Homo sapiens: one gene and its partners. The protein of the gene in region 6 interacts with the protein of the main gene of each other region in a pairwise test. Each region holds a gene or a part of one and is shown on either strand. Other genes may lie near its edges.

The links.
Region 1: the proteins of NECAB2 (region 6) and GTPBP10 interact in a two-hybrid assay, tested with the Homo sapiens proteins (one large-scale study listed by BioGRID).
Region 2: the proteins of NECAB2 (region 6) and CPEB2 interact in a two-hybrid assay, tested with the Homo sapiens proteins (one study listed by BioGRID).
Region 3: the proteins of NECAB2 (region 6) and CCNK interact in a two-hybrid assay, tested with the Homo sapiens proteins (one large-scale study listed by BioGRID).
Region 4: the proteins of NECAB2 (region 6) and EAF2 interact in a two-hybrid assay, tested with the Homo sapiens proteins (one large-scale study listed by BioGRID and IntAct).
Region 5: the proteins of NECAB2 (region 6) and DFFA interact in a two-hybrid assay, tested with the Homo sapiens proteins (one large-scale study listed by BioGRID).
Region 7: the proteins of NECAB2 (region 6) and SMARCA2 interact in a two-hybrid assay, tested with the Homo sapiens proteins (one large-scale study listed by BioGRID and IntAct).

What each region holds. Positions count from the first base shown.
Region 1 is NC_000007.14:90,377,716-90,381,215, forward strand, and holds part of GTPBP10 (GTP-binding protein 10), read left to right. Parts: intron 1-418; coding exon 419-496; intron 497-3,500. UniProt on the Homo sapiens protein: May be involved in the ribosome maturation process. Complements an ObgE(CgtA) function in E.coli ribosome maturation. Plays a role of GTPase in vitro. When missing, disorganization of the nucleolar architecture is observed.
Region 2 is NC_000004.12:15,061,481-15,064,980, reverse strand, and holds part of CPEB2 (cytoplasmic polyadenylation element-binding protein 2), read right to left. Parts: intron 2,903-3,500; coding exon 2,721-2,902; intron 1-2,720. UniProt on the Homo sapiens protein: May play a role in translational regulation of stored mRNAs in transcriptionally inactive haploid spermatids. Binds to poly(U) RNA oligomers. Required for cell cycle progression, specifically for the transition from metaphase to anaphase.
Region 3 is NC_000014.9:99,491,409-99,494,908, reverse strand, and holds part of CCNK (cyclin-K), read right to left. Parts: intron 2,964-3,500; exon of another isoform or gene 2,589-2,963; intron 2,284-2,588; 5' UTR 2,232-2,283; coding exon 2,035-2,231; intron 1,396-2,034; coding exon 1,314-1,395; intron 1-1,313. UniProt on the Homo sapiens protein: Regulatory subunit of cyclin-dependent kinases that mediates activation of target kinases.
Region 4 is NC_000003.12:121,869,709-121,873,208, reverse strand, and holds part of EAF2 (ELL-associated factor 2), read right to left. Parts: intron 673-3,500; coding exon 421-672; intron 221-420; coding exon of another isoform or gene 165-220; exon of another isoform or gene 143-164; intron 1-142. UniProt on the Homo sapiens protein: Acts as a transcriptional transactivator of TCEA1 elongation activity. Acts as a transcriptional transactivator of ELL and ELL2 elongation activities. Potent inducer of apoptosis in prostatic and non-prostatic cell lines.
Region 5 is NC_000001.11:10,466,030-10,469,529, forward strand, and holds part of DFFA (DNA fragmentation factor subunit alpha), read right to left. Parts: intron 3,310-3,500; coding exon 3,148-3,309; intron 1,304-3,147; coding exon 1,161-1,303; intron 1-1,160. UniProt on the Homo sapiens protein: Inhibitor of the caspase-activated DNase (DFF40).
Region 6 is NC_000016.10:83,999,244-84,003,276, reverse strand, and holds the end of NECAB2 (N-terminal EF-hand calcium-binding protein 2), read right to left. Parts: intron 2,554-4,033; coding exon 2,476-2,553; intron 1,453-2,475; coding exon 1,361-1,452; intron 960-1,360; coding exon 931-959; 3' UTR 501-930; downstream 1-500. UniProt on the Homo sapiens protein: May act as a signaling scaffold protein that senses intracellular calcium.
Region 7 is NC_000009.12:2,189,847-2,193,346, reverse strand, and holds part of SMARCA2 (SWI/SNF-related matrix-associated actin-dependent regulator of chromatin subfamily A member 2), read right to left. Parts: intron 2,082-3,500; coding exon 1,939-2,081; intron 644-1,938; coding exon 608-643; 3' UTR 1-607. UniProt on the Homo sapiens protein: ATPase involved in transcriptional activation and repression of select genes by chromatin remodeling (alteration of DNA-nucleosome topology).

The DNA of each region.
Region 1 (3,500 bases), on a different chromosome or scaffold from region 6:
TACTCCACTAAGTCTTTTATAATATGGGGATGGAAGTGACATTGTTTACTATATCATATGTAAGTTTGGCCATACTTGCCAACATGTATTTCCTTAAGATTTCCAGCATACTACCATATTATATAGTATCATAGTATCTCTTTCATTCTTCACTGATGATGCTAGAGTTATATATGAGATTGTCTTCATACAAATTGTCTTATCCTAGTTTTTTATTTTATTAATAACTGTAATTTTATCAGAATAATTAAAGTTATCTTAACACCTCGATTTCTGTTACTTATTTTGAATTACTAAGTAACAAGTAGAGTATAGAGAAATTGTTTTTAGCTTGAGAGAGTAAAACATTTTAAAACATAGAAATGTATAGCTATTCTTCGTATGTTAAAGGCTGTCTCTTTCCTTCTCTTTTTTTTAGGTTGATATTTCTGGATTTCAGCTTTCTTCTCACACTCAATACAGGACAGCTTTTGAAACCATAATACTGCTTACAAAAGTAGGTTTTCTGTTTTACTGTGTTCTGTATTTGGTCTAATACATAGGAATGTAAGACTATATGAAATAACATAATTACAGTCTATACATACTCCACCTTTAAAGCTTTGATGTCAGTTAAAGAATTACTTAAACTTGTTGTCTCCATTTCCTCTACATTCATTTGCTCCTCAAACTACTGCAGTGGATAAAACACTCCTGGGCTTCCAAATCCCCATTACATACTTCCCAGGTTTTTATCTTGCTTCAGCTTTGGCACATTGTTTAATTCCTCTTGTTTCTCATTCTTAGTTTTGTGACCGGTAATCTTCTGGTTCTATTTCTACTCTTACACTATTTCTCCGTCTACTTTTTAGGCTCTTTTTTCTCATCCTTTAAGTAACATTATTCAGAGTTCTGTCCTAACCTTATTTTCTATCTTACTCACTCCCGTTGCTTTAGTTACAATTAATAATATTGATGACTGCCAGATCTGTAGCTGATACCTAAATCTTTTCATTGTTCTTTCTTTTTTTTTGAGACAGAGTCTTGCTCTGTCTGCCAGGCTGTAGTGCAGTGGCATGATCTCGGCTCTCTCTGTCTCCCGGGCTCAAGTGATTCTCCTGCCTCAGCCTCCCGAGTAGCTGGGATTACAAGCGTGTGCCACCACGCCCGGCTAATTTTTGTATTTTTAGTAGAGACAGGGTTTCACCATGTTGGCCAGGCTGGTCTCAAACACCTGACCACAGGTAATCCACCCACCTTGGCCTCCCAGAGTGTTGGGATTACAGGTGTGGGCCATTGCACCTGGCCTTTGTTGTTCTTTAGACCAGATGCCCATCGGACATCTTCTTTGACTAGATGTCCCATTAGTCACTTAAACTTAATATGGATAAAAGTAAACTTTTAAAAAACTTTTCGGCCATCCCCATAACTTAGTGAATGTGTAAGCTATGATATACTGATTCTTCTCACCACCTACACAAGCCCTGTCAGTTTTTTATCCTAAATCTCTCTGAAATCCATCCTCTTGTCTTTATCTACGCTGTTATAATCATCAGCCCTTCTTATTGGAATATTGAATCTGGTCCTTTCCATTCTCCCTGTGTCCTGCCTTGCTTCTCTCCAGTCCATTTTTTATATGGCAGCTAGAGTGATCTTTGTAAAAGCACCAAGCTGATGCTGATGTTCCCTGCCTAAAACACTTTGATAGACCCCCATAGCTGTTAGGTTAAAGTCTAACCTGAGCATGATTTATGAAATCTGCAAGTTTAGGCCCCTACCTAGCAGTCCTCCTCTGTAACCCTCTCCCCTAGATGCTATATTTCAGCCATGTGATTTCTCTCTAAGACAACATGGTATTGCCTTACCTCCAGGATTTTATAGATCCTATTTCATTTGCCACTTTTTGTCTATAATGAATAATACTGCTGTGAACATTTGTATGCAGGTTTTTGTATAGACATGTTTTCATTTCTCTTGGATGTATACTTAGGAGTGGAATTGCTGGATCAGATAATAATGCTTTGTTTAACATTTTGAGGAACTGCCAAACTATTCTGAATTGGTAGCACCATTGTGCCATTTTACAGTCCCACCATCAATGTATGTTCCAATTTTTCCACATGAATGTCAACACTTGTTATTGTCTGTCGTTTTTACTTTAGTCATCCTAGTGGGAGTGCAGTGGTATTTTGTTATAGTTCTTATTTGCATTTCTCTTAAGACTAATGATGCTAAGAATCTTTTTATGTGCTTATTAGGCATTTCTGTGTCTTTGGAGAAAAGTCTGTTCAGATTCTGTGTGCATTACTATTTGTATTATTTGTCTTTTAATTGTTGAGTTATAAGCATGTTTTGTATTTTTGGAAATAAGTCCCTTCTCTTTTTTTTTTTTTTTTTTTTTTGAGATGGAGTCTCACTCTGTCGCCTGGGCTGGAGTGCGGTGGCACAGTCTCGGCTTAATGCAACCCCCACCTCCCAAGTTCAAGTGATTCTCCAGCCTCAGCCTCCCCAGTAGCTGGGATTACAGGCATGTGCCACCACGCCCATCTAATTTTTGTATTTTTAGTAGAAACAGGGTTTCACCATGTTGGCCAGGCTGGTCTTGAACTCCTGACCTCAGGTGATCCGCCCACCTGGCTTCCCAGAGTGCTGGGATTACAGACGTGAGCCACCATGCCCAGCTGGAAATTAAGTCCCTTCTAAGATACATAATTTGAAAATATTTTCTCCCCTTCTGTGACTTGTCTTTTCACTTTTTCAGTGTATTTTTTCTGTATTCTTTGTGGCACAAAACTATTATTTATTTATTTAATTTTCCAGTTTTATTAAAGTGTAATTGACATAAAAATTGTGTGTACTTAAAGTGTACAAGTGATATTTGGATATATGTTTACCTTGTGAAATGATTGAATCAAGCTAATTAACATGATCCATCATCTTACATACTATTTTATGTGTGTTGAGAATATTTAAAATCTGTTTTAGCAATTTTCAAATATATAATACATTAACTATAGTCATCATACTGTAAAATAGATCTTCAGGGCTTATTCATCCTATTTAATTGAATCTTTGTTCCATTTGACCAACACCCCTCCATCTTCCTCCCCCAAGCACCCTGGCAACCACCATTTTCTCTGCTACTATGAATTCAACCTTTTAAGATTCCACATATAAGTGGGATTATGCAGTATTTTTTTTTCTGTGCTTGGCTTATTTCACTTAGCATAGTGTTCTCCAGGTTCATCCATGTTGTTATAAACGACAAGATTTTCTTTTTTTAAGGCTGAATAATATTCAGTTGTGTGTGTGTATACCACATTTTCGTTATTCATCCATTGATGGACACTGAGGTTGATTCCATGTCTCGGCTATTGTGAATAATGTTTCAGTAAAAATGGGAATGCAGAGATCTCTTTGACATACTGATTTTATTTCCTTTGGATATATACCCAGAAGTGGGATTGCCGGATCATATGGTAGTTCTATTTTTAATTTTTTGAGAAATCTTTATACTGCTT
Region 2 (3,500 bases), on a different chromosome or scaffold from region 6:
TTTGCATATTTTCTTGCTGGAGTTTTGTTTGTTTTTTAAATTGATTTATGAGTTCTCTTTTGTCAGTTAAGAGTTTTTAACCTTTTTTCCAGTGGCTTTACAATCTTTAACACAAATTTTTAAAATTGTTATGCTTAATTTTTATCTCTCAACTTTTTCCTTTATGGGAACATTATTACAAACAAAGAATAAATTAAGGTAGCATGAGAGTTAACTGGATTTCATCTCACTGAATTATAAACTCCATGAACACTGGGACAGCACCCATTTGCTCAACATTCAGTTCCCAGTGCCTAGAAGAATATCTAGCACGAAGTAGAAATGCTATAAATATATGCATAAATGCAATACATTTACATATGTTTTCTGGGTTTCTTTCTCATGGTTATTTCTTTTTTTTTAAAATAAGATTTTAGACAGATTGAAACCAGGGTCTGTGATGTTTACTTCACTTCCATAATACCTGATAAAACACCAGATGTTCAGGAGTTACATTTTAATATAAAACTGTTGAATGAAAATTTCACAAATGCAATGATTTCAATTATTTGTATTTTTAAAATTCTAGATATTAGTTTTATGAAGCTAACCTACTTTACTCAAAACCAGACTTTAAAGATGGAAAATTGAATTTCAAAACCTATTTTTCATTAATAATCTCTAATAATTAAACTCTTCTATATGCAAAAGGAAGTTTCATTAACACTACACTTCACCTAGTCTTATTTTCTAACATTTACTAGAAGTCACAGTGAATTATACTACTTATGAAATAACATACAAAAAAATATAATGAATTACACATCTGTGGTGACTGCTTTCCAGCTATCAGATAGGAACTAAACCACAGTATCCATGAGTCTAAAAAGTTAAGTGGAATAAACAATTTTCATTCCCGCCAAATAAGTATCCCGTGTATCTCTGGGTTGGCAGTTATACACGTATATTTATTCAATTTTTATGGTTTAATAACCATATTCATATTGGAGAGATGAAAGGTATAAAGGTTAATGGTTTAATATTTCTTTGTATAAGCAATATTAGTGACTTGTAAAATATTTAAGGCTCAAATTCTTTCAAATACAGTTCAAAATTACCTTTGTAGCACATATCTTAGAAAATAAGCTTTTCCCTCAGGTATTTCAATGCCTTTTTAAGAAGGCACATGTATCTCAATTCATCTGCTCTGCAACTGAGTTGCTCTTTAAGAGTCAGTACTCTGCTCCAAATAATCGGTCCTTCACTATAATTTCAGAAACAAAGAGGTATGAGGTATGACACTGTAACAGTCTTTTTCTTCTGGTAGTGTATATTAAATACCATGATTACATACTATGTAAATAACGTCGTCTGTGACCTATCACCTCTCTGTTAGCGGTCTAAACCACTGCTGTACATTTGTGTCACTTCCGGAGCTTTATAACCAATTCAGCAGAACCTCAGGGGGTAGGACCCAAATGTCAAGATTTTTCTAAGTTCCCAGGTGAATAATGTACAGCAGAGGTTGAGAAACACAACACTACAGGAACTCTTAATGTTCAGACAAGTTCAGAAAAGTTACGTATGCGTGTCTTGTCAAAAGCAGAGCACCTCCTCTTAGTTTTTTTTTTTTGGCAACCTTTTAAGTAGCAATGCAAACAAACAAAAAAAACCTACTCTGCATTTGTGAACTGAACCTATGCTGCATTTCTTTTCTAAATGAGACGGTTGGGTAATTACATTGAGGACTACTTCTAGCATGCATGGTCTAGTCAATCGGTATTAATTAACCAGCTTCCCTGTCCCCAAAATAGTCTTTTAATGTGCCAAACAGCCCCAGAAGAGGCTTGAAGAAACTGTTATATTGGGGAAAAGGAGTACCCACTCAAATTGTATCTTCTATCTACTAATTCAGATATAAAAAATTCATTTACCCGCATATTCTTAATGTATTTCTGCTATACTATAATTATAAACATGATTATTTTATAATATATTTAGCTATGTATAGGAACTGTTCACAGATTTTGGCATAAAATAGATTTGTAAATGAATGCTAGTGTCTTTCCCTATTTTAGAAGGTAGTCAGTACTTGGAATTATTCAGTAGGGGTTTCAGTTATCATTCCTAGTACTTCTTACAAGTTCTTATTGTGATGATTCAAGCAATGCTACTAAAAAAATTTTAAGTTTAGGTCAATTATTTTAGAGAAATACACACAATGCATTTTTATTTTAGATTTTGTGACAAATGAAAACAAACATTTAAATAACACTCTCCGTCAAGTTCTATTCTAAGTGCTTATATATATGTAAATTCATTTAATCCTCAAAATTACTGAGAAAGACATGTTATCATTGTTTTCTATTTTACAAGTGAGGAAAAAGAGGCATACAGAAGGTTAATTTGTAGAAATGGGGTTCAATCCCAGGCAGTCTGACTCCAATGTACAGGCTCTTAAAACAACCTCTGCCTCCACGGTTAGAATATTTGACCTTACTGGCTGATTAAAAAATTTTGACATGGCTGCACAATGATATTAATATTTTTACATTATATCTAAAGTTTAAAGTGTGTTCAGTAATTTTCCATTTCAAGGATATTTTTATATAATATCCTTTAAGACTTACAGAAGTATAAAAATTAAAGTGTTCAAATTATATTATTAACTCGTTAGGGTATGAGGCTTTGGATCAGCACCTTATTATAGGACATAAGTGATTTCCCAATATGCAACTTACACGTTTATCAATATCACCATGCTGAAGCTGAACAAACCGAGCACTAATGGCAGCAATATAGCTCTGCTGATTGGAGAAAGCAACTCGCCCAGCACCTTTTGGGTATTTTAGCTCAGGATCTGTATCAATTCCTGCATAACAAACTCCACCATACAGCCGGTCCATGATCATAGCAAGTTCCACTTGAAAAGGAAAAGAAGTTTACATCAAATGTGAGAGAACACAGTAATCAACAATTTTTAAGTACTTTTTGTAAAACGTAAAAGTCAATAGTATATTATCATTTGACCAGGAGTAGAATGGCAGATAAGAGGCTGTTGTTAAAAAAGGACGGGGATCGAGGATGCTTTTTTTAAACTATAAAGTGACTCACCACCATCACATCTACCTACTTACAGCACTAAACCCACTATATACTCTATCTTCTGTCCTATAGAGAAATAGTTCCATGCTCTTTCCTAAATCCAATCCTTTCACTTGCATACTAGATCCCATACACTCTCACTTAGGACACTGCTTCAGCAATTCTCCCCTTTCCCTTCTATACAATCAATTTTCCCAAGTACACTATAATTTTCCTATCTTAAAAAAAATTCCCATAACACTTTTTCTCCCTCTCAGCTACTGCTCCATTTCTCTGTTCCCCTTTACAACCAAATTTCTCAAAATCTGTTCCAGTATTCCCCCCAATTCCTCTCCTCCCTTTCTCTTTATTCAACTCTTTTTCTAACCAGACTATCACACCATGACTCCACTATAATTGTTCAAGCCAAGTCCAAT
Region 3 (3,500 bases), on a different chromosome or scaffold from region 6:
CAAGGGGCTTGTTCCTCCCTTCCACCATTTGAGGATGCGGCAAGGAGCCCTTTTATGAGGAACAAACCCTTACCAGACACAGAATCTGCCAGCACCTTGATCTTACACCTCCCAGTCTCTACAACTGTGAAGAGTTAAGTTTCTGTTGTGTGTAAATTATTGGGTCTAAGGCATATTGTTATAGCAGCCTGAATGGATGAAGAAACTGTCCCTCCAGTTGCCTCAACCTTAGCTCAGTCCCTATATCACTGGGGTCTGAACTGCTCTGTCTTCAGCTTCTCTTTGCCCACTCCAATCCTTCCTACATGCCACTCTCCTCACATAATCCTGATCACACTAGATGTCAGACACTCTGCCGGGGGTACAAAACTGATTCCAACATGGTCTCCTTCTTCAAGAACTTCACAACCAGTGAGGAAGGCATGTATATAAATCTAACTAAAATCTTAGCTAACAAATCAACACAATGACTTTAATGTTAAGTCTGTCATTTTCACGAAACCTTTTAATTACTGCATTGTTCACCCACTGAAGCCAAATTTCTGAAGTCTGGCATTCGAGGCTTATCGTGGTCTGACCCAGTCTACCTATCCACCCAGGGTCTCATCATTTCCTTCCTGCCAAATCAAGCTCCTGGCTGGGCTGACAATGTGTCACATGGTTCCCCCTGCCTCTGCTTATGCTAGCTTCTGTTGGACCACTGACCTAGCCCATCACGGCATGGCTATGCCCTATGTACGTTTAAGGCTTACCTTAATGCTGGCACCTTCTTCCTAGCACTTTCCCTGCTCTCTCCAAGATGTAAGTTGTCTCCTCCTTGAATGCCACAACTCTTTTATCAGTATCTTCTGATGGCCTCACTTTCCATCACGTGTTCTGTGCATGTCATACCACTTATCCTGGACTGAAAGCTACTCTATCTCCCACAGAGAGTAAGACACAATGCACGTCTTGAGGAGTAACCGAAGAATGAGTGATATGGCATAGACAACTTCTGTTCCATTTTGCTTTCTTGGTCTTTGTTGAGTCTCAATTATAAGCCCAAATTTATGCTGGGAAAGGTACCACGGGAGTAAACTTTCATACAAAGCGCAATATGACTATGGTCCATATTGGCCTAAGTGAAAAGATTTGAACATGGCTAATTGGAATAAAAAAAGTTCAAACTTGATTTTGTTTATATGCAGTATATACCATATAAAAATAAATACTTTCTGGAAAATATGAGAAAAATAGAGCTTATAATTAGTCCACCAAACTGTGTGGAAATAATAACATATGACAGAGAATTACAATAAAATTCAAACACTTACATATCTTGGGAATTGCTTGAAGGAATGAAACATATAGAAGCGATGAAAATAAATTATTCCAGTTGCCAGGGTATCATAGTGTCTGTTGTTCTGGTTAAGGACTCTAACCAATAACTTTTACAGGTTATACTCTTAGTTAAATGTAGAAAAACAAAAAGACAAACAACAACAACAAAATCAATGGTAAAGTAAACAATATTAGTGGCAAAGTAATGAGATGGGAATCTCAGGGTGTCAGAATTCTGGTACAAGAATTAGCAAGCTGAAGTTTTATACTTTTAACACCCTTTAGAAACACTTCAACTATGATCTTTTTTTTTTTGAGACAGCATCTCTGTCACCCAGGCTAGAGTGCAGTGGTGTGATCTTGGCTCACTGCAGCCCAGGTTGGTCTCGAACTCCAGATTTCAAGGGATGCTCCTGTCTAGGCCTCCCAAAGTGCTGGGATTACAGGCATGAGCCACTGTGCCCAGCCTCAACTGTGATCCTAATGGGTGCCTCATATCCTCCTGGCTGGCCACCTCCTCAGTGGCTAAGTCTACACCTTTAAAATGACAAATCAGAAAGAGAAAAACCCCCACCAGAAACAACATTCAAACAGATATTTAAGAACTGCTCTGGTACAGAGAAATTACTATATATTTTGTCTACAGAATCTAATTATTTCTTGGTGGTGAGTGGGGAGCCTATCTGTAACAGATTCCAAGGAGAGTCAGGATACAGCCCCAAACGTGTGCCCACATCAAAGATGAACCGAGCGCCCTCTCGGCGGTACCGGGCCTCGGTGGCTGGATCAAGTCCTTCAAGTTGTGAGGGTGTATGAGCCAAGTCTTTCTTATCCCAGTACCAACATGGCTTTGTGTGGTCCAGGTTTGCTGAAGTTACTGAAGGGCTTGAATTTTCTTTATTCTCCTTCATTTATTGAAGTAGGCTTGTTCTTTCCAAAAGGTTCTCTGAAAATGTTAGAATCCTATGAGAAAGAGAAAAACAAAGTTGGAAAGGAATACTCCATACTATAAGCAATCTAGAATCATAGATTGTACCTGGTTTGGGATCACTATTTCCTATAGAAACCACACTGTCAATTGCCAGTTACAAGCCCGGGCTAACTCCAGAGCCAATTTAACACAATACTGTAAGATGACCCCAGTACTAATATTAATAAATCTCAAATTTCATGGTAGTTTAAAAATAAGACTATTTCCTCCCTCTCTCTTGAGATTAAAGGGTTAACCTTATTTGACAAAGTTTTGGAAGAAACGAAGTATATCTCACTTTCTTCTGGTTTTTCTTCACTAGACATACAGGTCCTCTAACGCTGGTCCAGATTCCATTCTTCAGCAAAACCTGGGCCTGTCTTAATCTTGACAAAGATTTATGTTCTAAAACTAACCATCTCTTCCATCCAGCACCCCTTTTCAGTTTATTCCATGTAGGCACTTTCACTTAGACAAGTCATGGGATTGGGTTAATTCACATCTGCACAAATCACTGAATTCACTGATGTAAACCAAATGTGCATCTTGTGATTTGGGGAGTGGGTGGATGGAAGTGGTCCATGAGAGAAGGAGCTCCTTTAAACTGTTCTTGCTTTTTCATCCTCTTCCTTTTCTTTCACTCAGAATAAAGACACTCTCCAAAAGCTCCATGCTGAGAGAAAGAAAGAAAGAAAAAAACAACAACAACGAAGGATCTCATCTAGAGACCACTGTTAGAAATAAGTCATTTGTAACCTGGATCAGAGACAGCAGATACTTTCAAATAAGGTATCAAAAGGGTTCTGAAAGAGCTGGCTGGAGCCAGGTTAGTCTGGTTAGCAAGAAAACAGCAGCTCTGTGGCCAGGTTCTGGGCCAGGGCTCCCACCAGTTCATCTGGAAACCTAACCTTTTCTGTGTATCTGCCTCATTTCTGGTGGGGAAGGTGACATGGTGGGGCTGAATATTCTCCTCCTTGCACCTGGTAGCTCTGAAGGAAATCTGATCTTCCCTCCAAGAGGAAGAATTAAGTACCTGGAGAAAAGCTTGAACTAATAATTTACATTTTTGTGTGTGACTGATTAAATTGGGCACTGTTCAAAGGGCGGGGGAGACCAGTTAATTAAAACCTCAGAAAATATGACCTGTTCATAATCAGACATCACACTGAGATACAATTCTCACCTACTGGATTGGCAAAAATCCCAAAGT
Region 4 (3,500 bases), on a different chromosome or scaffold from region 6:
AACATGTGTCTAAAGCCTAGAGGTTTGAATCAGAGATATAAATTTGCAAGTTACCTACACATAAGTATTGACTGCAACAGAAACATGGAGGAAGTTATTTAGGGAGAAATTGTAGAATGAAAAGAAAAAAAGAACCCAAAAGTAAGCCTTGAGAAACTCCAACTTTAATGACTGAGCAGAGGATCATATAAACTTGAAAAGGAGTGAGAGGAAAGATTATCTAGAGAGATGGGAGAAAAACCAAGAAGGCATTATGTCACAGATTCAAAAGAAAACCATAATTCAATAAAAATGTAATTATTAATAGTATCAAATGCATAAAATAGGAATCTTTTTCTTTATCCAAATATTAGGTCACAATCAATATGGCTCCACTATAAATTCTTACTTTTCCAATTGCCTGTGTTTATGTATACTTACTTAAAGTATTCATCAGAAGGCCACTGTTGTCTCGAAATCTATTATGACTGGCATCTATATCAGGAATCCTGTACTGTGTCATGGTAGGATGTCCTGAGACACAATTCCCTGTATCAGAAGTAGAGGATTTGCAATCTTCATCTTCTGAGTCACTAGAACTATCCTCACTACTTGAAGATGATGAACTTTTGGAATCTGATGAACTATCACAACTACTCATCTGGTCCATTAGACTAGCTTCTGCCTTCAGTTCTGAAAATAAGACAGAAATGAATAGATAGGTTAAATAAAAAATGCTAAATAAATATAATAAAAATTGAATGTATTAGTTTTTAAGAAACTGTTGAAACTAAAATCAAACATACATTTACAGTACTTGAAGCATTTTATTAAAAAACAAAACTCTTCTACCATCAAGCCATACTTCAATGATTGGATTACAGAAACTAAAAGGGATAGACAAGGTCTAAATCTAAACTCCACATTTATTTAAACCATTGTACTTAAGTATACAGGTAACTCAAATATAAAGTAAATACTGTGAAAAACTATAAAAATTAAAATCTATTTTGGCAGAAACTGTCTTCTGATTATTTTTTGTTCCTTTAAATACATATAATATAATGTGATAATGTAACAGATGAACTTCATTCTTTTCCTGGTTTTCCTAGAGAACATTTTGATGAAGCATCTATAGGTTTCCCCCCTGCTCCCTTAATAAGGATTTAAAATATTCTAAGTATTTTTGAAGAGCCAGTTCCCATTATAACTTTGGCTATAAATATTTCTGTAGATAAAAAGAATAATAATGATGTCTTCTTTTGTTTAGCATTTTTCAAGTTCTAGATACACAAAAAAATTATAGTTGGGAAGGTCTTCAGCTACCATTTAGAACAACTTCATAATTTTATAAATGAGGGAATGAAGATCCAGAAATGTCAAAAGCTGTCAGTTATTTATGAGTGGAGGCAAATCTACTGACTTTTAAGTCAATATTTTCCCATATGATACAAATGTCAAATAGTTGAACAAAATTTTTTAAACCAAAAAATGCTAAGTGAATAATACACTCAGTTAACACATTGACATTTGATATCATCTTAGTACACTGCTACATTAAGTTAACTGGTAATTTTTAGCCCACTTCCTCATTCTCCCTATTATAGACACACTGGCTTTCTATTATTTGACCACATTAAATCCATTTCCAGGCTATGTTCTTCGTACTAGCTGTTTCCTCTGCCTGGTATATTCTTCACCCAGATCTTTTGTTTGTTTGTTTAATACATAATTTCCATAAAGTAAAATGTACAGCTAGATAAATTTTAGCATGTATAAAACCTGTATATCTACCACTGAGATCAATATATAGAATATTTCCATTCCCATGAATATTCTCCTATGCTCTTTTCCAGTCACTAATCACCATTTTGACTTTTATTACCAAAGATTTTTGTCTATTCGTCTATTCTTGAACTTCATACAAATAGATTCACTCAGCATGTACTTTTTGGTCTGCCTTCTTTCAACATAATGTTTTTATATTTACTCATGTTATTGAATTAATCTGTAGCCTATTCTTCTCTACTGCTATGATATTATATTATATTATATTATATAAATATACCACAAGTTAGTTACCCATTTTCTACTTATGGATATTTGGGTTGTTTTCAGTTTTTGATATTATTAATAAAGTTGTTATGAAAATCCCTTTACAAGTCTTTTTGAACTTATATACACATTTCTCTTAGGTAGAAAGAGAGAAATTGCCAAGTCACAATAGGCATAGGTTTAATTTCATTAAAAACTCCCAGTTTTCAAACTGATTTTACACTCCAACCAGCAAGGTATGAGTCACAGATGCTTCATATCTTCCCTCACTAGGGCACACACACACTTGGTATAGTGAGTCTGAAGGGTGTACAATGGTATCTTCTTGTAGTTTTAATTTTCATTTCTTTGATGTGATAATATGAAGCAGTGTTTTTTTATATGCTTACTGGCCATTTGAATATCTTTTTTGAAAAGCCTGTTCAAATCTTTTGTCCATTTTTATATTTGTTTGTCTTTTTCTTACTGATTTGTAAGAGTTCTTTATAGCTAATTCTTCTGGCTATGAGCCCTTTGTCACACTTTTGGCATTTGTGAATATTTTTTCCAGGTTCCCCCAAGTCTGTAGCTAGGCTTTTCATTTCATTAATGGTGTCTCTTGAGAAGATTCTAGATCTCTGAAAGGCTGGCTCCTTCTTGAATCGGTTTAAGTGTAACCTTCTCAAAAGTTTCCTTCTTCTCCATTCTCCAACCCCCATTGCTTAGTTTAATTCTCTTCAAGACACTTATTTCTGAAATTCATTTGGATACTTATTTGTTTACTGCTTGTATCTTCCCTACCCTCCCTCTCACCCTCATCCATACTCCTAAATAAAATGTGAGAATAGCAATGTTGTCTTGTTCATGTTGCATAATTATTGTTATACAATGTTGGATTCAATTTGCTAATATTTCATTGATAATTTTTGAGTTTAAGTTCATCAGAGATATTGGTTCATAGTTTTCCTTTTCTTGTACTGTCTTTATCTGGTTTGGGTATTAGGGGTAATACTGGCCTCATAAATGAGCTTAGAAATATTCCTTCCTTTTCCTTTTTCCAGAAGAGATTGTGTAATGTTGGTGTTAATTCTCTTTAAATGTTTGGTAGACTTCTTGGTCTGGCTATTTTTGGGGTGGGTGCTTTTTAATTACTAATTTAATTTATTTAATATTGATAGCACTATTCAAGTTGCTTACTTCGCCTTAGTTGAGTTTTGGCAGTTTTTAGCTTTTGAGGAACTAGTCCATTTCCTCTAAACTGTCAAATTTATGAGCACAAAGCTATCATATTTCTTTTCTCTTCTTTTTAGATAGGGTCTTACTCTGTCACCCAGGCTGGAGTGCAGTGGCACAATTATGGCTCACTGCAGCCTCAACCTCTTGGGCTCAAGCAATCCACTCACCTCAGCCTCCTGAGTAGCTGGGACTACTCAGGTGCACACCACCACGCCTGACTGCCTGAGTAATCTAAAAAAAAAATTTTTTTT
Region 5 (3,500 bases), on a different chromosome or scaffold from region 6:
CTCAGCTACCTGAGAGGTTGAGGTGGGAGGATGGCTTGAGCCCAGGAAGTCGAGGATGCAGTGAGCTATGATCATGCCACTGCACTGGGTGACAAAGCAAGACCCTGTCTCAAAGAGAAATTTTCTTTGAATGAAAACATACTGTTTTTATCCCAATCTTTTTTTTCTTTTTGAGATGGAGTCTCTCTCTGTCACCCAGGCTGGAGTGCAGTGGTGCGATCTCGGCTCACTGCAAGCTCCACCTCCTGGGTTCAGGCGATTCTTCTGCCTCAGCATCCCGAGTAGCTGGGACTACAGGTACAGGTGCACACCACCAGGCCCGGCTAATTTTTTGTATTTTTAGTAGAGATGGGGTTTTACCATGTTAGCCAGGATGGTCTCGATCTCCTGACCTCGTGATCTGCCCGCCTCGGCCTCCCAAAGTGCTGAGATTACAGGCGTGAGCCACTGCACCTGGCCTATCCCAATCTTACTAGAGAGAAAACACAAGGAGAGAAGCTAAGCTACTGGCTCAAAGTCGTGGTGACAGCGCTGGGATGTGAAGCCATCTACTCCAACGCTACATTCTCTAGCAGGGCATCCCTGACCCCAGCGTCCACCTAACTAGGTTTAGGGTGGATCCCAGGCATTTGTATTAAAAAAAAAATCTGGCCGGGCACGGTGGCTCACGCCTATAATCTCAGCACTTTGGGAGGCTGAGGCAGGTGGATCACTTGAACTCAGGAGCAGCCTGGCCAACATGATGAAACGCTGTCTCTACTAAAAATACCAAAATTAGCCAGGCGTGTTGGTGTGCACCTGTAATTCCAGCTACCTGGGACGCTGAGACAGGAGAATTGCTTGAACCCGGGAGGTGGAGACTGCAGTGAGCTGAGATTGCACCACTGCACTCCAGCCTGGGCGACAGAGTAAGACTGTGTCTCAAAAAAAAAAAAAAAAAAAAAAAAAAATCCACAGGTAATTCTGCTTCGTGACGAGGGTTGAAAAATTACTCTAGGTGAGAATGAGAAGATGAAAAATCTTAGTTGTAATTTAAGAATTATTTAAAAATTAAGATTAAAACAAAGAAATTGCTATGGCAAGTATGGAAGCTAAGAAGGTGCTGGGGCGGGGGGCAGAGGCTGGATGAACATTGTTGCAGGTTGTGGAGGAGGCTTTACCTGGAGGTCCTCCTCTGATAGGAGGATGATGCTGGACAGATCTTCTTTCAGCTGCCTGGCCACATTCTTCCACTTCAACCCTGCCCCGCTGTCTGTTTCATCTACATCAAAGGACTCTTGGGAAATCCAAGCTGTACCTCCATCTGACACATGGGAGAAAATGCCAGTCACAGAACAACCTGAAGTGCTGTTTTCACCTCCTCCCCCAGCACACACAGACCTCTTGAGGATCTAGATTAATTTCAATGGGAAAGAAGCATCTTATCTCAAGGATTCACAGGAGGGTCAATATCCATCCAGGACCTTGATTTTCCCTCTTCTTTCATTTTTTTTTTTTTTGAGACAGAGTCTCACTCTGTTGCCCAGGCTGGAGTGCAGTGGCACGATCTTGGCTCACTGCAACCTCCACTGCCCGAGTTCAAGCGATTCTCCTGCCTCAGCCTTGCAAGTAGCTGGGATTACAGGTGCCCACCACCATGACCAGCTAATTTTGGTATTTTTAGTAGAGACGGGCTTTCACCATGTTGGCCAGGCTGGTCTCAAACTCCTGACTTCAAGTGATCTGCCCACCTCGGTCTCCCAAAGTGCTGGGATTACAGGCATAAGCCACCGTGCCTGACCCTCTTTCATCTTTATCTCTGTGTGCAACGGCTCTGTATTCTTCCATAGAAAAAGCCATTTAAACCCAATGTGTGGTCACACCTACAAGGAATCCAATCACACTTCCCTTTCTGGTTTCTGTGTGTCCAGGTGTGTCCTGTTTTTTATACGAAAACGGTCATTTGTGCCAGCATTTCTCTGTGCTTGGGGATTGGTCCCTTCTTTAACTGGCAGAGCTGTAGCCATCGATTGCTGTCCCTTAGGCCTGAGCACAAAGGTGGCTGGTAGGGCCACTGCTGTAGGATGACTTCCTCAATTTTGTGGCACACTTCAGGACACTTTTTTTTTTTTTAAGTCCCTCCCTAAAACTAATCCCCTCTCAAGACACTTCTTGATCCTTGGTCACCAATGTTAGTCCCCTTTCTATCTCCTGTGATGATGATGATGGCAGGGACAGGTAACAATTATTGAGTCCTTAACTATGTGCCAGGTAAGATCTAAACACTTCATATCAGTGGTTCTCAAGTGGGAGCAATTTTGCCCCCCAGGAGACATCTGACAATATCTGGAGTCATTTATTCTTGGTTATCACAGTTGTGGGGGGAGGTTCGTAACATCTAGGATGCTACTAAACGTCCTATCATACACAAAGCATCCTCTTCACAACTCCAGCCCCAAATGTCAGCAGTGTCATTGAGAAACCCTGGTTTGATATGTACTATATTATCTTTACAACAATCTTAGGGGACAGGTTCTATAATTATTATGTCAACAAGGCACTGAGAAGTTATGTAATTTGCACAAGGTCACCTGGTTAGTAAATGGTAGAGCCAGGATCCAGACCTCAACAGCTGGACTGCAGCCTGCAGCACTGAGCTCCCTGCCAGGCTGCATTTCAGTTGCTGTCTGTCCATGAGTTAGTTGAGAACTGGGCCCATGTCTCATTCATCTATTTTTTTTTTTTTTTGAGACAGAGTCTCGTTCTGTCGCCCAGGCTGGAGTGCAGTGGCACAATCTCAGCTCACTGCAACCTCCACCTCCCAGGTTCAAGCAATTCTCCCGCCTCAGCCTCCCAAGTATCTGGGATTACAGGTGCCTGCCACCATGCTCAGCTAGTTTTTGTATTTTCAGTAGAGATGGACTTTCGCCATGTTGGCCAGGCTGGTCTCAAACTCCTGAGCTCAGGTGATCTGCCCACCGTGCCTGGCCTCATTCATCTTTATCCCCAGGACTCAGCACCATGTCTGGCACATAGAAAGTGCTCAGTAAATATCTGTTGAACAAATGCTTAAAAAGCCAGACAAATGGCAATTGTCTGTGCAGTGAAAGTAATCATGATGGATGCTGTACTGCATAGGCCGTTTTATACATGGCTAGAGTTTCTTACCTGAATTGTTGTATGCCCATTTCTCATTACTAGCCAATGCCACAAACTTAGTATTGGAAGGTAGACACAGAAAGTAATCGTCATCATCCACTATGGTGCCATCCTCTGCCAGGACCAGGGTGACTGGTGTCAGGGACTTATCAATGGCCAGAATGTCACAGGCTGAAAAGAATAAAATATTTGGCAAATGACAAATAACCGTAAGGAAATTACATCTATCCCTGCATCTCAAGTATGTATGGCTCCAGAGCTGAGCAGAACTCCTGGTAGGTAATAACTAGAATCACAATCATCACTTCTAGCACTACCAGAACACTCATCACGTGCCTGATTCTGTTCTAAGTGTTCTTTTC
Region 6 (4,033 bases):
GGAGCGTCCTGCCTGGTGACAGTGTCTGTGTTGAGCCACACTGCGTGGTCTGGGCCAACCATGTGATTTATGGTGGGGTGTTGAGCCATGAGGTGTCAGCGTGTATGCGTCACCGAACCCCAGTAAGACTCAGGACTGCATCCCTGATTGGTGATGCTCTATCAGCATTGAAGCTGGGAGGGTTCAGTGCTATGGGCCTTTACTGGTAGCCCCGTGCCTGGCCCCCCACTCCGGGAGCCTCTTTCTTTGCTGGATTTTGTCTGTCTGTCTGTCATCTACCTACCTTGACCGTGACTTTGACAGTTGTGCCCAGTCCTTTGAATTACTGACCTGAGGGTAGGTGTGGTGCTGAGCTCCTGAATAGGCATGAGCCTAGTTCCCAAATACCGCATAGAGTGACCACCACCATTTCATGGTTCAGAAAACTGAGGCTGGGAGCACTTGAAGGGTCCCTGGCCCCCTGCTGTTGTCAACCAGGAAACAGACACAGAGCACACAGCTCTTCCCAACCAGGGTTTATTTGGCGCCTGGGCACAGTGGTGGCTACCTGGCTAGGTTGGGCACTACAGGGGCATGACTCCTACTAGGTAGAAGAATGTCACCGAAGAGGGCAGGGTGTGGTCAGTGTGGGTCATGCGTGGCCATGTGAGGGGTAGGGGAGAGGCCAGGACCAGGAGGCAGGGGTGCTGGCTCCAGGAAGCCGCCCCCTTCAACCTTGGGCTTCACCAGGACCTGGCAGCACAGACACTGCTCTGCCTTCTCAGGTGGGGGCAGGGGCGGCCTCCTTCACTTAACAACAGGGAAACACCTTCTTGTGGAGGATGGATTGAAAAGAAGCTTCTGCACCAAAGTGTCTGTCTAGAAAAAAACGGGATTTCCTTCACAAGAAGAAGGGGCTGGTGGGCTCCTCCACGGGCCTCTGGGAGGCTGTCAGTCCCGTCCCACCGTGCACCAAGCAGCTAAAAGGAGAGAGACACGTTAGAGGGAAGGAGTGCGAATGTGGGCAGCCTCGTAGCTGGTGGTGGTCGTCTTGAATGACAGGTCGGGGGATGGCTTTGAGTCCTTGTGTGACACACAGGTCCTTGCTGGTCACCCAGGTGCAAACCACACACCTGGGAAGGGAAATTCAGTCTGGCTGGAAGTAGGGGGCCGTGGAGGGGGTGCTCTGGTGCAAGCTCTGGCAGGCATACCTGTATGTGGGGCCACCTCAGGGCTGGCTCTGAGCCTGGCATTGGTGGCAGGAGCTGACAGTGGGCCCACAGCAAGCAGGCAAGTCCCCGGGAGATATGGGGCAGCCTCTAGGCTCTTGCCCTTCTCTCCAGTCAGGTGGCCACTGCAGTTCCAGGCCTTTGCCCCCTACCTGGCACCAAGATCCTGGAGAGGGCCTCAGGCTGGCTCAGTGTGTCCACCTTGACGTGCCGGAACGCCTTACACAGGGGGCTCTGCAGGTGCCTGTGACGCAGGGACATGTGTGAGTCAGGGGTGGCAGGAGTGGAGCTCCGCGTGTGGCTCCCCTGTTAATCCTAGCTCTAGCCCAAAATGGGGAGCTTATCAATAAGCACGGGGGGTCTTTGGACTCAGAGCCTTTGTGGGAAGGTGAGGGGGTGCCCAGGGAGGCTGACTCTGGGGTGGGCAGTGAGCTTCTCTTTTTCCCTGTGAGCTATAAATGGGCAGCGGGATCCCCCCACTCATTGCACAGAGCCTCTACCTCCCCCTTTACCCTAGCAGGAGGAGTGGGGCCATCCTCTGCCTGGGACCCATGACAACACAGAAGCTGCGAAGGCTTTTAGTCCCTCGTTTTATGAGTCACTGAAGTACGGACAGGGAGGGGACACTCTCACTTCTCATGACCGCCCCTGTTCCCACTGGGGTCCTGAGTTTGTCAGCAAACCGTGAGTGTTTACCAGGGAAGCAGGAGATGGGGGCATGGGCTACCCCTAGGCCCCGCTTCCTGCCTGTGGGGTCTGGCGCATCAGCAATAGTCTCCACCCTCTCCCAGATGTGTGCTGAGCAGAGGACAAAGGCCTAAGGCCCATCAGAGCTGCTGACACCCTACCCCATCTCCGTCCCTCGTACCGGGCACTCAGCTGGAGGGGAGGTTAGTCGCTGGAACAATTGATCACATGGGGACTGAGTCACCTTCTAGGTTAGGCCCTCAACTCTACAGGGTGGTAAAGAAGGCAGTGCCTCGGCCCCCAGGGCTGTTCCAGGAGGACAAGGTGCTCTAGGGGCACAGAAGCAACCCTGGGGAAAGCAGGAAAGCCCAGCTGAGTGTGGTGGGGGCTCTCACTACCCACCAAGAGCTCCTGCCTCCACCAGGGTTTACTGACGCAAGCATGCCAGCGGGTAGATGCCTCGGGAATCTGCTGACTGGACTCGGCCTTACCCTCCCCTCCAAGGATGCCTGGCTCCAGGAAGACAGCCCCCCCACTTCCCTCTGTCTCCCTCACCTGCTGTGGGGACCCAGCATCTCACCTCTTCCACGCCTCCTCTGTCTCCCAGAACTCATAGATGACAAAGGTGAAGCCATCTGAGAGCCTCACGGCAGTGATGCTGCAACAGGAGATGGTCGGGGGGAGGAGGCTGGAGCTCAACCAAGGCCACCTCAGTGCTGTTCCCCTGGGGTGGCCTGAGACCCACCACTATACACAACGGCTGCCTTCAATGTTTCTTCCTGTCTTGACCTCCATCGAGACTCGACAGGGTGACCCCAGCACAGGGAATAAGGCCTGGCTTCTTATAGTGGCCAACAGCTATTTATTAAATAGAATCAATGCAGTGTAGTTTTTCTTTTGAGATAGGGTCTCACTCTGTTGCCCAGGCTGGAGTGCAGTGGCACAATCACTTCAGCCTTCCAAGTAGCGGGGACTAGAGGAGTGCACCACTCGGCCTAATTCAAAAACTGTCCCAATAGAGATGGGGTCTTGCTATGTTCCCCATGCTGGTCTTTAACTCCTGGGCTCAGGCTGTCTTCTCACCTTGGCTTCCCAAAGTGCCAGGATTGCAAACTTCAGCCACTGTGCCCAGCTGAAATGTCATGTTAAAGTGTGAACATTTATTTAAACAAAACCAGGTGGCTGGATGTGATGGTTCACGCCTGTAATCGCAGAACTTTGGGAAGTCTTGAGGGGTCGAGGCAGGTGGATTACGTGAGGTCAGGAGTTCAAGACCAGCCTAGCCAACATGGCAAAACACTGTCTCTTTAAAAAAAAAAAAAATAAAACTTGCTGGGCCTGGTGGCACATCCCTGTAATCCCAGCGATGCAGGACACTGAGGCATGAGACTCATTTAAACCCTCTGGTGAGAGGTTGCAGTGAGCTGAGCTTCCACTACTACACACTCACTCCTGCCTGGACAATAAAGCAAGATTTGGTCTCAAAAAACCTTTAAAAATCAAAAAACCTTTAAAAATCAAAGCATCTTCCCTCTTCTTCCTTCTACTTGTCCTCTCATTTAATCCTTGCAACACCCCCACTGCACTGTACCTGACCTGACCAAAGGAGGCTGAGGGGAGGGGGTGCTGGGCCACAGAGGAAGGGGCTGCAGGCAAGTCCCCCATTGCTCTATGGGACCCAGGGGCCCGCACTCACGTCATTTTAAAGGTGCTGATAGTCTATGCCGCCCCAGAATCCTCTCTGCAAGTGCACTACAATGAGGAAGCCCCAAGTGACCATAAAGCGGGGGCCAAAAGCTGGGGAGGAGGGGCTACAGTGCTCAGCCTAGAGGAAGGGGCCGGGCTGGATTCCATCTTGGGGTGGACACACCTCCGTGCAGCTTTAGGTGCACCATGCCTGGGAAGTAGAATCTCACCTGGCTCTCCAGGCTTGCCGTCTCCAACTCGACAAACCAGAGCCTCTACGTCCACCGTGCCTCCTCTCCACAGCGCATCGGGGTGGCCCTACTTCACCCTGGAGCCTCCCACTTATTCACGTAATGGAAAAAGATCAAGTCTGGCCCCTGCTCCTGTGCAGTCTGTCCTCCTGGAGTGGAGTGGGTCCTGCCCCCCCATCCTGGCTACTTACTCAAGAATGG
Region 7 (3,500 bases), on a different chromosome or scaffold from region 6:
AATGTTTACAGTAGACATAAATCTTATACAATTCAAAAAGCTTTTGTTCAGATCATAGAGCATAAAATGGAAAAATGTATATGCAGGTGAAATCTAACTACTGTACATTTATCACCTATTAAAGTTGCTTATATGTACCACAGTGTAAAAAAACAATACCGAACAAATAAAAACCTCGAAAATTGCCTGATGAAAAATAAAATAACCAGTGGCTTTTAATGGCTTCTCCTGGTTATCAGTGCTACAAAAGACAAAAATCTTCTCATCTGAACAGGTGATAAAACCAGGCACAATCAAACCGTTACCAAATTAGACCCACCCATAGAAATATACTATCCACCCACATATTTTCCATCAAAAGCTTTTTGTTTGTTTCAATCTGAATCTTTGAGGCCCATTTGGTCACAATATGTTACAAATATTTGTGTATGTGTGTGTTTTTTACACCATGATATCATATGTTTGTCTGGCACTATCCTAAAGCTAGTTTATAGACGATGATGATATAGAAACAACCCAGTGCCTATATGACAAATGAACTCACTGGGTAGAAATGAGACAGGGGAGGAAGGAATTCAGTTCTACCAAGGAAAAAGGTCCATACTGATCACTCATCATCCGTCCCACTTCCTTCTGACTGTTCCTAAAAGTAAAAATAAGAAGATAAAATGAAGTAACATCACATGCAAGAAAAAGAAGATATAACAACAAACCATCAAGAGGCCAGTAGGAAAAAATGACATTTTGGAAACAACTCGCCAAATCTCTTTCCGTGGGAGGACAGAAACACATTAAAGAGGCATCGACAGTCTCTAAGCTGAGAAGTTTTTCTTACTGAAAAACCCCAAAGCAAAGCCCACCCTCTAAGCTATTGTTTGTGCCCTTTCACTTTGGCTTGAAAGGTTTATGGCTAATATTTTCTCTTTTTCAGCCCCAGGTTTTAGAAAATTCATGGGAGAAAAAAAAATACCCTGCATTTGACATCTCCTAAAGAAAAATGTATTTGAAAATGCTTGCATCAAGGGTTAAGGCTGGGGTGAGATCATAATTCTGAAATTTTACCAAAATGGTAATGTGTTGAAGGAAAATCAAACTAGGAAAAGGGAAATTTATCTTTCCAGAAAGAAAATAATGTGGGTGCCAGGAAACCATCCTCTGGAAAGTGAATGGATGAAATGAAGGGTATTTCAAAAGGCAAGGTATTAGGAGCTTCTGCCCACTCTTCTACCTTGCTGCCCAGTCAGACATAGCACACTAGACTGAGTTATGCTACTCGGGTCCGAATTCCACCTCTGCGACGTGATCTGTAGCAAAACACCCATAACCTAACCATTTCCATAACATGTTATTTGAGAGTGACATCTATCTCACGATGCCGACATCAGTATTTAATATGCTACCACACAGGGAGGTACCTATTACAAGGCCTGGCTCAATAGATGCTCACTGAATTTTTCAAATATGAAAAATAACACCCCTAGGTACTTAAAAAGTCCTTTGAGTTTTTACATGGTCCCTTAAGTAGCAACTCGAGCCAATAACTCTGACGTCATAACAGTTTTTCTCATTCTTCCATCTAATCTACTGTTATGTACCAGGCACCATGCTGGCTGTGATGCATGTAAAATATTAACTGGCTACGGGGAAAACCATATTTATAAGAAAGCATGTGGGAAGATTAAAAAGGGGGAAAGGGAAGCTTGATTTGGTAGTTTTTCATTTTTGAAGACTATTAAAAAGGCAATAAACAAAGCCCCCAATCCTTTGTTCTAAATCATACAGCTCCGTTCACATCCCTCAATAATGAAATCTCACTAAATCCTGACATTTCCAGTCCTGGGTAATAAAGCGAAAAGGCTGAAGGGGCATGGAAATGCAAGAGGCCAGCAAGCAGGGGAGAGGGCGTCTCCGCCTTCAGTCCCAGTCGGCTACACTTACACGTTCATCCTGCTCCTCATCGCTGTCAAAATCGCTCACTACAGGTTTGGCTTTTCCTCGATTTGGCCTTTTCTTGCCTTTCCCTTTGTCCCGGCCTTTGTCATCTTTTTTATTGAGCTTAATTTTCACCTTGACTGATTTTGCTAAAACCAAAGCAAATGAAATAGACACCAGTGAGTAATCACAAGGAGATCTTTGTATAGGTGGTAAGACTATCACCAACCTACAGACAACACAAACATCCCAGAGTGCCCAGAACATTCCCGGTTTATGCCTGTTCTGTGTGGTTCTGTCTAGTCAGCGACCCCTTTCACTTGCCAACCTGTCTTCTTTTGGAAGATAAATGATGTAGTCACGCTAAACAGGCAACAAGAGGGACCGAGGTCTCATGGAGGACAGTGGGGCTGGATCCTTCACCTGTCTCCCAATGGCTGACCAAGGATAATGAGGGGAAGTGTTTTCTACTTGTGGAGGTGTTGGGCAATCATTTAATAGAACTTTTACATTAAAAATATAAATAAATGTAAAGAGTTTAAAGGCCAATAATTTTACCATGTAGATAACTCCATTGACTTAAAAAGAAAATTCAAATAGTTCAATCATATTTTTAACATAAAGGTACAAAATGGAAAGTAAAAAGAAAACACTTTTGAATGCTTCCTTTCCCCCATTCCTAGTCTCTTTCCCTATAACTAATTATTTCCAGGAAAAAAAATGTTTATGTCCATACCTGCAAGTACATCCATTTCTCTCTCTCTGTGTGTATGTGTGTGTGTGTGATTCTACATATTCTATAAAAGTCTCTCTATAGAATATAAAGAATTCAAGTAAGTATATATACACACGTACATACTTGAATTCTTTATGTAGTTATCCCAAAGGGATCTTTATACATGTCCATATTCTCCACTTGGCTGTTTACTCACATATGTGGGATATTTATAGGTAAAGCCTCATACATACCTGCCTAATTCTTTTAAATACCTGAAAATTTTCCATCGTATGGTATACTATAATTTATTTAATCAGTCTCATATGATGAGGGCTGAAGTTTGCTGCTTTTTTTGCTAGTATAAACAAAGCTGCTGTGAACCTATTTCAATGTATCTTGGTAGAATTTGAGGGAGGTATGGTGGACATGTCCATATGGTAAATTTCTAACAGTGCTCTGTCAGATTAGCCTTCAGAAAGACTGCACCCATTTCCACCTTCACAGGACTATTCTGGGGATACCAATGGAAACACTTGGAAGAGTTCAAGGTACAATATCACAAATATAGGTACATATCCCAAAGAACAAAGACAATCTGCTCCATGGTAGCTATTTGGGATAGGTATCCACAGAATACCATTTTTGGTATTTGATGATGAAGGCACTGAAAATGTGGGTCTCTCATTCAAGCTAGCTTTGCTAGACTACCATGTTTGGTGGGTCTCAAGGCATCTAGAAATAGATGTTGTCATAGAGGGAATCCTAGCTCCAGAAGGAGATGAGAGTGTTTGTTTCAGACTTCTTTTGTGAAGTAGAGGGACCCACAAAATATTTCCAAAACTAAAATCTC